Linked DNA regions of Homo sapiens. The protein of the gene in region 2 interacts with the protein of the main gene of each other region in a pairwise test. Each region holds a gene or a part of one and is shown on either strand. Other genes may lie near its edges. The genes, in order: DAB1 and MBNL3.

Evidence for each region.
Region 1: the proteins of MBNL3 (region 2) and DAB1 interact in binary tests that used the Homo sapiens proteins (3 or more experiments, as listed by UniProt).

What each region holds. Positions count from the first base shown.
Region 1 is NC_000001.11:57,421,961-57,425,560, forward strand, and holds the start of DAB1 (disabled homolog 1), read right to left. Parts: upstream 2,101-3,600; 5' UTR 1,970-2,100; intron 1,153-1,969; exon of another isoform or gene 1,057-1,152; intron 1-1,056. UniProt on the Homo sapiens protein: Signaling adapter of the reelin-mediated signaling pathway, which regulates the migration and differentiation of postmitotic neurons during brain development.
Region 2 is NC_000023.11:132,387,769-132,391,786, reverse strand, and holds part of MBNL3 (muscleblind-like protein 3), read left to right. Parts: intron 1-703; coding exon 704-940; intron 941-4,018. UniProt on the Homo sapiens protein: Mediates pre-mRNA alternative splicing regulation. Acts either as activator or repressor of splicing on specific pre-mRNA targets. Inhibits cardiac troponin-T (TNNT2) pre-mRNA exon inclusion but induces insulin receptor (IR) pre-mRNA exon inclusion in muscle.

The DNA.
Region 1 (3,600 bases), on a different chromosome or scaffold from region 2:
TATCTTAGTGCCTGCGCAGTTCCGGTGCCATCCAGAATCACTCATCACGGAGATCACAAAAACAATGGGTGCTAATTCAAGGGGTGGGGATGGTTTGTAATTTTATGGATTTCCCAAAGACCTATAATTGGCACATAAATGTACCAACGTGAACTGGATAATTAGGCGGTTCTGAACGTAAGCCACCTTTAATTTAATTGATATGATTACTTGAAAACGTTAAGTGTTGTAAAGTGTAGTGGAACCCCCACACAGCCTTTATTCAAAACTATCAACACTGTTAAAGTGTATTTAACCGGCCAGCAGGAAGGGAGCAGGAAGGAGGAAGAAACGACGGCGCGGATTCTCGCCCCGGTCCCCGCCGGCTGGCTAGGAGCTGCACTGGAGCATCCAGCTCGCAGGAGGGCTCGCCCCCGGGCTCGCCCCCGTCCAGCTCCCAGGCGGAGAAAGGCGCTCTCGCTACCGCAAGCCCTACATCGCCCCTCTTTCTAATGGAGCTAAACACAGGCGTGCGCCGACATCCAAACGCACACGCAGACACCGACCCACGCGGGCGCGCACCCCAGACTCGGCGACACATACACACCGGAGCGCACAGATGCCCGCGTCGCGGCGCTCTCCACTCCGCCCGCCGCCAAGAGCGGAGCGGTAGCCAAGCGCCCCCGGCCTCCCCACCCCCACGCCATTCCTTCAGACTCTCCCAGCCTAAGCGGAAGTGCCCCAGCAGACCCCCAACAATGAGGATTTGTGCGATGCAGTTGGGGGTTGGGGGTAGTTCACACGGAGTGAAACGTACACAGTCTGGCGGGTCTGGGAGCAGCCAAGTGGCGTCCGCCTCTCCAGGCAGCGATCCCTTGTGCCCACTGCCCCCCATCAGGCCCACCAGCACCACCAAAAAACAAAAACAGAGAAAAGAAAAAGCGCCTTAAAAAGTGCAGAGAAAAGATGCGCCCTCCCACCAGGGGTCACAATAATACTCCTCGGGACGCAGCCAGCGGAGGCAGGGTCCTGGCTGCAGCAGCCACCCTGGTTTTGAAATTTACTTTGTACACTCACCCAGTGGCCCCTTTCAGACGCCGCGACACGACCTCCCCCCATCTCGGACTCCCTGCCTCTGGGTTCTCTCGGCGGTTGACACCCTCTTGTGTGCCTGCTTTATGAGCCGAACCACAGAGATTTAAAGTTTCCTTGGTAGAAAAAAAAACTGAGCTCTCTGCATCCAAGTCAGAGCGTCGAGTCTGGAGCAGAGAGAAGGAAGAGGGGCGGGCTGGGGAGGCGACTAGCTGGGCGTGGGGGGAGGGGGTGCTGGGGAGTGGATGGAGGGGGACGAGCGGCAGAGAACAGAGTCCACAGAGGATCCGAAGAAAGGCCGGGGTCCGAGGAACGCGGGATCCAGTTCTCACGGTGCCCGCGAAAGGGCTGGGATTACTGGGATAGAGTCGGTTTTTCGAGAGGTCGAAGCCGAATCTCAGCGCTACGGAGGAGTAGGGAAGTGAGAACGGGGTTCGGCCGAATGAGGAAAAGGGTCTGGCCACCAGCGAGGGAGGGAGGGAGTTTCGGGAGCCCAGGACAGCGGGAGAAGGCAGGCTCGAGGTCCGATATAGCCAGGACCGCAGGAGGAAAGAGGGCGCAGGGGGTCTTGGAGAGAGACGCGTGTCAGGGGTGGACAAGTCTGGAGACAGGATCGCGCGTGGTCGGAAGTAGGGAGACAGGGGCGCGGGGATGGGGGGCAGGACAGAGAAAGAGAAGTCGCCCTTTTCCTCCCAGCAAGTGGAGGGAGAAGGCGAAAAACTGCTGCAGTCGCCATCCTCCCAGCACCCCTAGCCAAACTGCTGAGTGGCGCGTCCCAGGAGCCCTCCTCCGCGCCCCGGGGCTCCAGCGAAGCCTCCTGGCTCCCCGGCGCCCTGTCCTCGCGGGGCACCTGCGGCGCTGAACTCAAGGGTTGCCGCGCGCCCCCGCCGCGCCTCACCTCGCCTAGCCCAGAGCATCCTCCTCCGCTGCCGCAGCCGCCCAGGAAGCGGCTCCCCATGCCCGGCGGGCGGCGGCACTCAGGCGCGCTCTGCAGCCCGGGGAAGCCCGGGCGAGCGCCGAGCTGGGTCCATCCTCCCCGGGAGCCACCGGCCCCGCGTCAGAGTAGGGGGAGGAGACCGCCACCCGCGCGGACCCGCCTCCTCCCGCGGCCCCCCGCCCCGCCGCCCCCCGCGCCCGCCCGGCGCCCCGCGGCACCGCTCACCTGCTAGCTCCCCGGCCGCCGCCGCCGGGCCGTGAGCCCCTCGCCCCGGCCTCGCGGCTCCCTCCGGGGCGCTCTCTGCGCAGCCGGAGCGCGCTCCGAGAGCTTAGCCGAGTGGCGGTGGCGACGAGGAGGTGGAAGAACGAGCGAGCGAGCGAGCGAGCGAGCGGGGGCGCCGCGGCTTGCAGTCGCGCCTCTGGAGCCCCTGCACTCTCTCTCCATCCCAGCGTGGAAGGGGGAGAGACGAGCCGAGAGCGAGGGGTCCCCGCCCCAGCCGCGCCAGCGTGGAGAGGGTAAGGGAGGGGGGTTGTCACAAAGTATCCAGTGTTTTCTCCCCCATCACCACCACTGGACGCAGCTCCGCCTGGCCTCTCTCATTTTTCTCTAAGATCTACCCTTTTATCCAAGCCTCGAAAACATATGCATACCCAAATATATGGAGTGCCAGGAAGGGCGAAACCACGAGGGGAGTCTCCGCGAGGGCATGTTGCCCCCACGCCCCTTGGCAGGAGGGGGCGCTCGCTCCCAGCCGCCAGTGCAGGTTCGGCGGCTCCTGTTTTGACTGAGGTTTCCCAGGCAAAGTTCGGCAAGTTGGGAGGGAGAAGGCTGGCACGTGTCAAGTTTCCGTCAGTCCTCAGGAGAGACCCGTGCCCCTGAGAGCACGCAGACCACGGTTAACTCCGGCTTACTCCCCGCGACTCCCCTACTCGGCTCTTAGAATGACTGGGAGTAAACAATCCTCCGATTCGAAGCTGTGCGGGAGGCGGCTCCAGCGAGTACACAGTCAGTTGCTCCTTGCTTAGGGTCCTAGCTCACAAAGATCCTAGAAACACCAAGTCGCAGAAAATATTGGGTCATTCTGAAAATTCTTCCACCTTGAGACTAGATTCAACTCCAGAAAATTCCTGTTGTGTGGCATACCTGTCTCCAGAGGCCTGAAATGCAGGAGAAGAGAGGAGCCTGGTGAATCAAATCAAGTGCATAATATGTAGATTCGCACAGCACACAAACCACCCTGTTGGACCCAGGTGCAGAAAAGGAAAGCAAGAGGCAGGCAACCCTTCCTTAAAAAGTTTACCGTTACTCTTTTTGGGGCTACACTCCTGTCTTCCAGCTGTATAATAACAAAGATAATGTGATGGATTTGTGCTTTTCTGTTTTGGGGTGTTTTTTTTTCTCGTAGCTTCTGACACTCACCCATGAAAATTTAATGAAGCATTTAGGGTTGTTACCTCCAGAGTCAATGGGCTAAAAATATTTAGCCTAATGCACTCCTTGTGGAGCCAGTAGGTCCAGGGCTGGTACATACAAAGTCATCAAGAGACCCTCCCTTTCTCCACAAAATTCACGACCCATTAAACTTATTCCAT
Region 2 (4,018 bases):
TAACTCTCTACGATTGCAGAATGTAAAGCTATATGAACACAGAAGGTAAATTAGTCTCATAGTGCCTCAACTTTTTTCTCCATTTTGAGAGTGATGTGCTAGGCAGTAAATAACCCCGATGCCTAAGAAAAGAAAATCTGAAAGAAATTTCAAACAGCTTTTTGATTTATTGAAGTCCTTCATTCTTCTATTGTTATTCTTTGTACATTGAAATAACTAGTCTTTCCTTACAAAGTCAGCTCCATTTGCAGCCGCTTAAATGCCTAGTAATGTATTGTAATATAATCTGATTGTACATATAACTCAGTTATGGTTCACAAGTTGACTTTGGAAAACCAGTGCATTATGGTGTGATAAAGACTCATCTTGGACTTAAAAAAACACTAATTATGCTTAAGGCTGTGTATTAACTGGAGAATTAAAACTGGTTTTCAGTAATACTTTTTTAAACATTTTTATTTCAATGTAAGGACAACCTCCTTTTGGGGAGAATAGAATTTTTTTCTGGGAATAGAAATTCTGTCTGTTTATATCTCATAGTGAATATGGCTTTACATTATTCTTTATCTTTTTAGATTTGTTCACACATAATATATTCAATGTATATATAATTACTGTTACATTCACTAGCAAAATAAATAAAAGCCAGTCAGCTTCCAGTCATCAGTGTGATGCGTGTGTATGTGCATGTGTGTGTTCTAAGGTTTGCCGAGAATTTCAGCGTGGAAATTGTACCCGTGGGGAGAATGATTGCCGCTATGCTCACCCTACTGATGCTTCCATGATTGAAGCGAGTGATAATACTGTGACAATCTGCATGGATTACATCAAAGGTCGATGCTCGCGGGAGAAATGCAAGTACTTTCATCCTCCTGCACACTTGCAAGCCAGACTCAAGGCAGCTCATCATCAGATGAACCATTCAGCTGCCTCTGCCATGGTAAGAAAAGGCCTGCACTTGTGGCCTGTTTCAGAGTAAATGCTTTGTATATTCCTCAATTTGTCTAATATCCTGTAACCATACTCATGGATGGTCATGAGAGGACCTTAATATGAACAGTCAAGGTTATAAGCTGGAAAAGAAAGAACCTATTTATTCTACTTTATTTACTAAGATTTTCTAAAGATAATTATTTAAAAGCCTTACTAATGCTTTTAACCTACTGTGCTCTTTCTCCCATTTTCAGAGTAAGGGTAAATTATATAATTTAAACAGTAAGTTATTTTTGAGTGCTTTTATAGTTTCACTACCCTCAATATCCTAGAGAGGCAGAAAGTTGCCTCTGCTCTGTGAGCCACTTTCATGGGCCCTTTGCTACTAACATCCTTAATGCCTTTCAAAAACACAGCACTTAAAAGATAGGGTATTAAGTAGGTTGTAATTTCCTAAAGGTTAAGGCCACTTTTCCTCTCTAGAGGCATAGTATCAAGGACAGCAGCCTGCTTAGTCTGGGGGGAAATTTCTACGTGGTTGGGAGCAGAGGCCTGACTTTGGTTTTTTTTTTTTTTTTTTTTTTTTTTGTTGTTGTTGTTGTTTTGTTTTGTTTTGTTTTGTGGGGGTGGTTGTGTGTTTTTTGTTGTTGTTGTTTGTTTTGAGATGGAGTCTCACTCTGTTGCCCAGGCTAGGGTGCAGTGGCGTGATCTCAGCTCACTGTAACCTCCGCCTCCCAGGTTCAAGCAATTCTCTAGCCTTAGCCTCCTGAGTAGCTGGGACTAGAGGCGTGCACCACTGCTTCTGGCTAATTTTTGTAGTTTTTATAGAGGCCGGGTTTCACCATGTTGGCCAGGCTGGTCTTGAACTTCTGATCTCAGGTGATCCTCCTGCCTCAACCTCCCAAAGTGCTGGGATTACAGGCATGAGCTACCGTGCGCAGCCCAGAGTCCTGACTTTTAAGTTGCTGTAGAAAGCCAGTTTTGGGGGAACAGTTAGTGCTGCTTAGTAATACTGAAAGGTAGGAAGCAGGAAAAATATTTGTGTAACACTGCAGTGTGATCACTGAGAACCAGGAATTCTCGTGACTTAAGTTTGCCACAGCTGTCCGTTGTTTTGATGTGCTGCTTGCTATGTCTTTCTTTTTCTCCCTGGACCTTTCCTTGTGTAATAAGGCATAACAGCCCCAGTAAAGGACAAAACCCACAGGAAACCTCATGTTCCCTGGGTGTGGAAAAAGCACTGACATGACCCTGAAGCCCAGGAGATGCACTGTGAGCTAAATCTCCTCACAAACATTCATAGTTTGGACTCCCATGACAGAGACTTTGCCTATTCACAACAGAGAGACACTTATTTTCAAACATCCCTATTAAGAAGGTTTTCCTCATACCGAGTTGAAATTTATCTTGCTGCAACTGGAACTTCACAAAAGAAGTCAGTCCCTATTCCAAGTGAGAGTGACTCTCATGTCTCCTGTCTAAGCCAAATACTGCAAATTGCTCCCTTTTCCTGGTAGTTTATGGTTTCAAGGACACAGTACCATTTTTGGACTGGCTCCACTTTTTGTCAGAACTGAACTCATTACATCGTGAAGGATCTGAGCACCAAAGTAGAACAAACTTACTTTCTCCCTTGATCTGAACAACATAATCTGTTAATGAATGTTAAAAAAGACTTTACCAAATTCTTTTTGTCTTAAATGCTTTTGAAGGGGTAATTATAAGCTATGAAAATAGCTTCATATGCATCTGTCCATTTCTGATTATTTGAGTGTGTTTGATAGAATGCATAGGTTACAAGTCAGCCTCAAATTTCCACGTAGAGAGCTAAATATTATATCATAGGCCTTCAATTGTTACTTGTGAATATCAATATAAAATTCCCTTTTAAGTAACTGATCACAGCAGGGTCTTAGCAGTGAGATCAAGTTGGCTCATAAGAATTTGATAGAGGTAAGATTAAATAAAGGAGGGCTTCATGAAGAAATTCAAGCTTTTTATATTTTTAAGGATTCATAGTGGACATGCTTTATAAAAGAGACATTTTTACCTTGTTCATGTATATAGCTCAGGTTGAGTTCACAGAAAGCAGCTTGTATTTAAAAAAAAAAAGAGAGAGACATAAAGGGTTGATACTTAGTTCATCCACAGTCTCACACCTCTTCGGCAGGTTTATGAGTTTAATAGTACAATCACCACCCAATTGGAACTGGGCACTGACCCATCAGGATAAACCCCAGCCATAAATAAACAAGCAGTACTACCTTACCAGCGTCTACCTGTTGAATGTTCATCTAGGTTTCACCCCAATTTGTAGTTTACTAGGGAACATAACTGGTTCTGATGATCATACCATGCTGCCAACTTTCAAGAGAGAGAAGGGGACACTCCCCGTTTATACCAAAGGGAAATCTTTTTAACAACCAGATAAGTAGGTCTTCTGTCTTAGTTAAAATGTTCAGCAAAACCATTTTCTCCCAATGGTAATAAAAGGCATTCGAAATGATAGATTTTGTTTTATGGTTTATGATTTTAGTACTGACCTTTGCCATCTGGTCTGCTGGGATAAATTTGGAAATTTTATATCTCTAAAGCTACTCAGTTTATTTTATCTCACTCTTCTAGCATGCTTTTCTTTATTTAGGTGAAATGAAAAGCAGATCTGTCACAGTGTGTGCACTGACAGTAGAGTTCCCAAAAGAAAATAGAGATACCTTGAGACCTTTGTTATCCACAGGAACGAGGTCATGGCATTACCCTTTTGGACACATGGTAGGATAGTTACTCAACACAAGCATTCCTGTTTCCTTAAGAATTTGGAGCATACCTAATTGTTGTTGCTGGGACATGTTTTTTAAGTAACGTGCAATTTGCTGAGAAAAAAAAAATGTAAAGTAATGTTAAACTTCTCCAAAGAATCTGATCCAGGGGCAAGTTTCACGGAGTATTATAAGCACAGTGGGATTTTGAAAGAACTGTAGACATGAAAGGATGGTTTAAAAATGCTAATAGGTTTTAGAATTAAACCTTACAAGAACTTAACAAAGCAAATGGTACATACCGAAATGGACAGCAAGCCTCTATA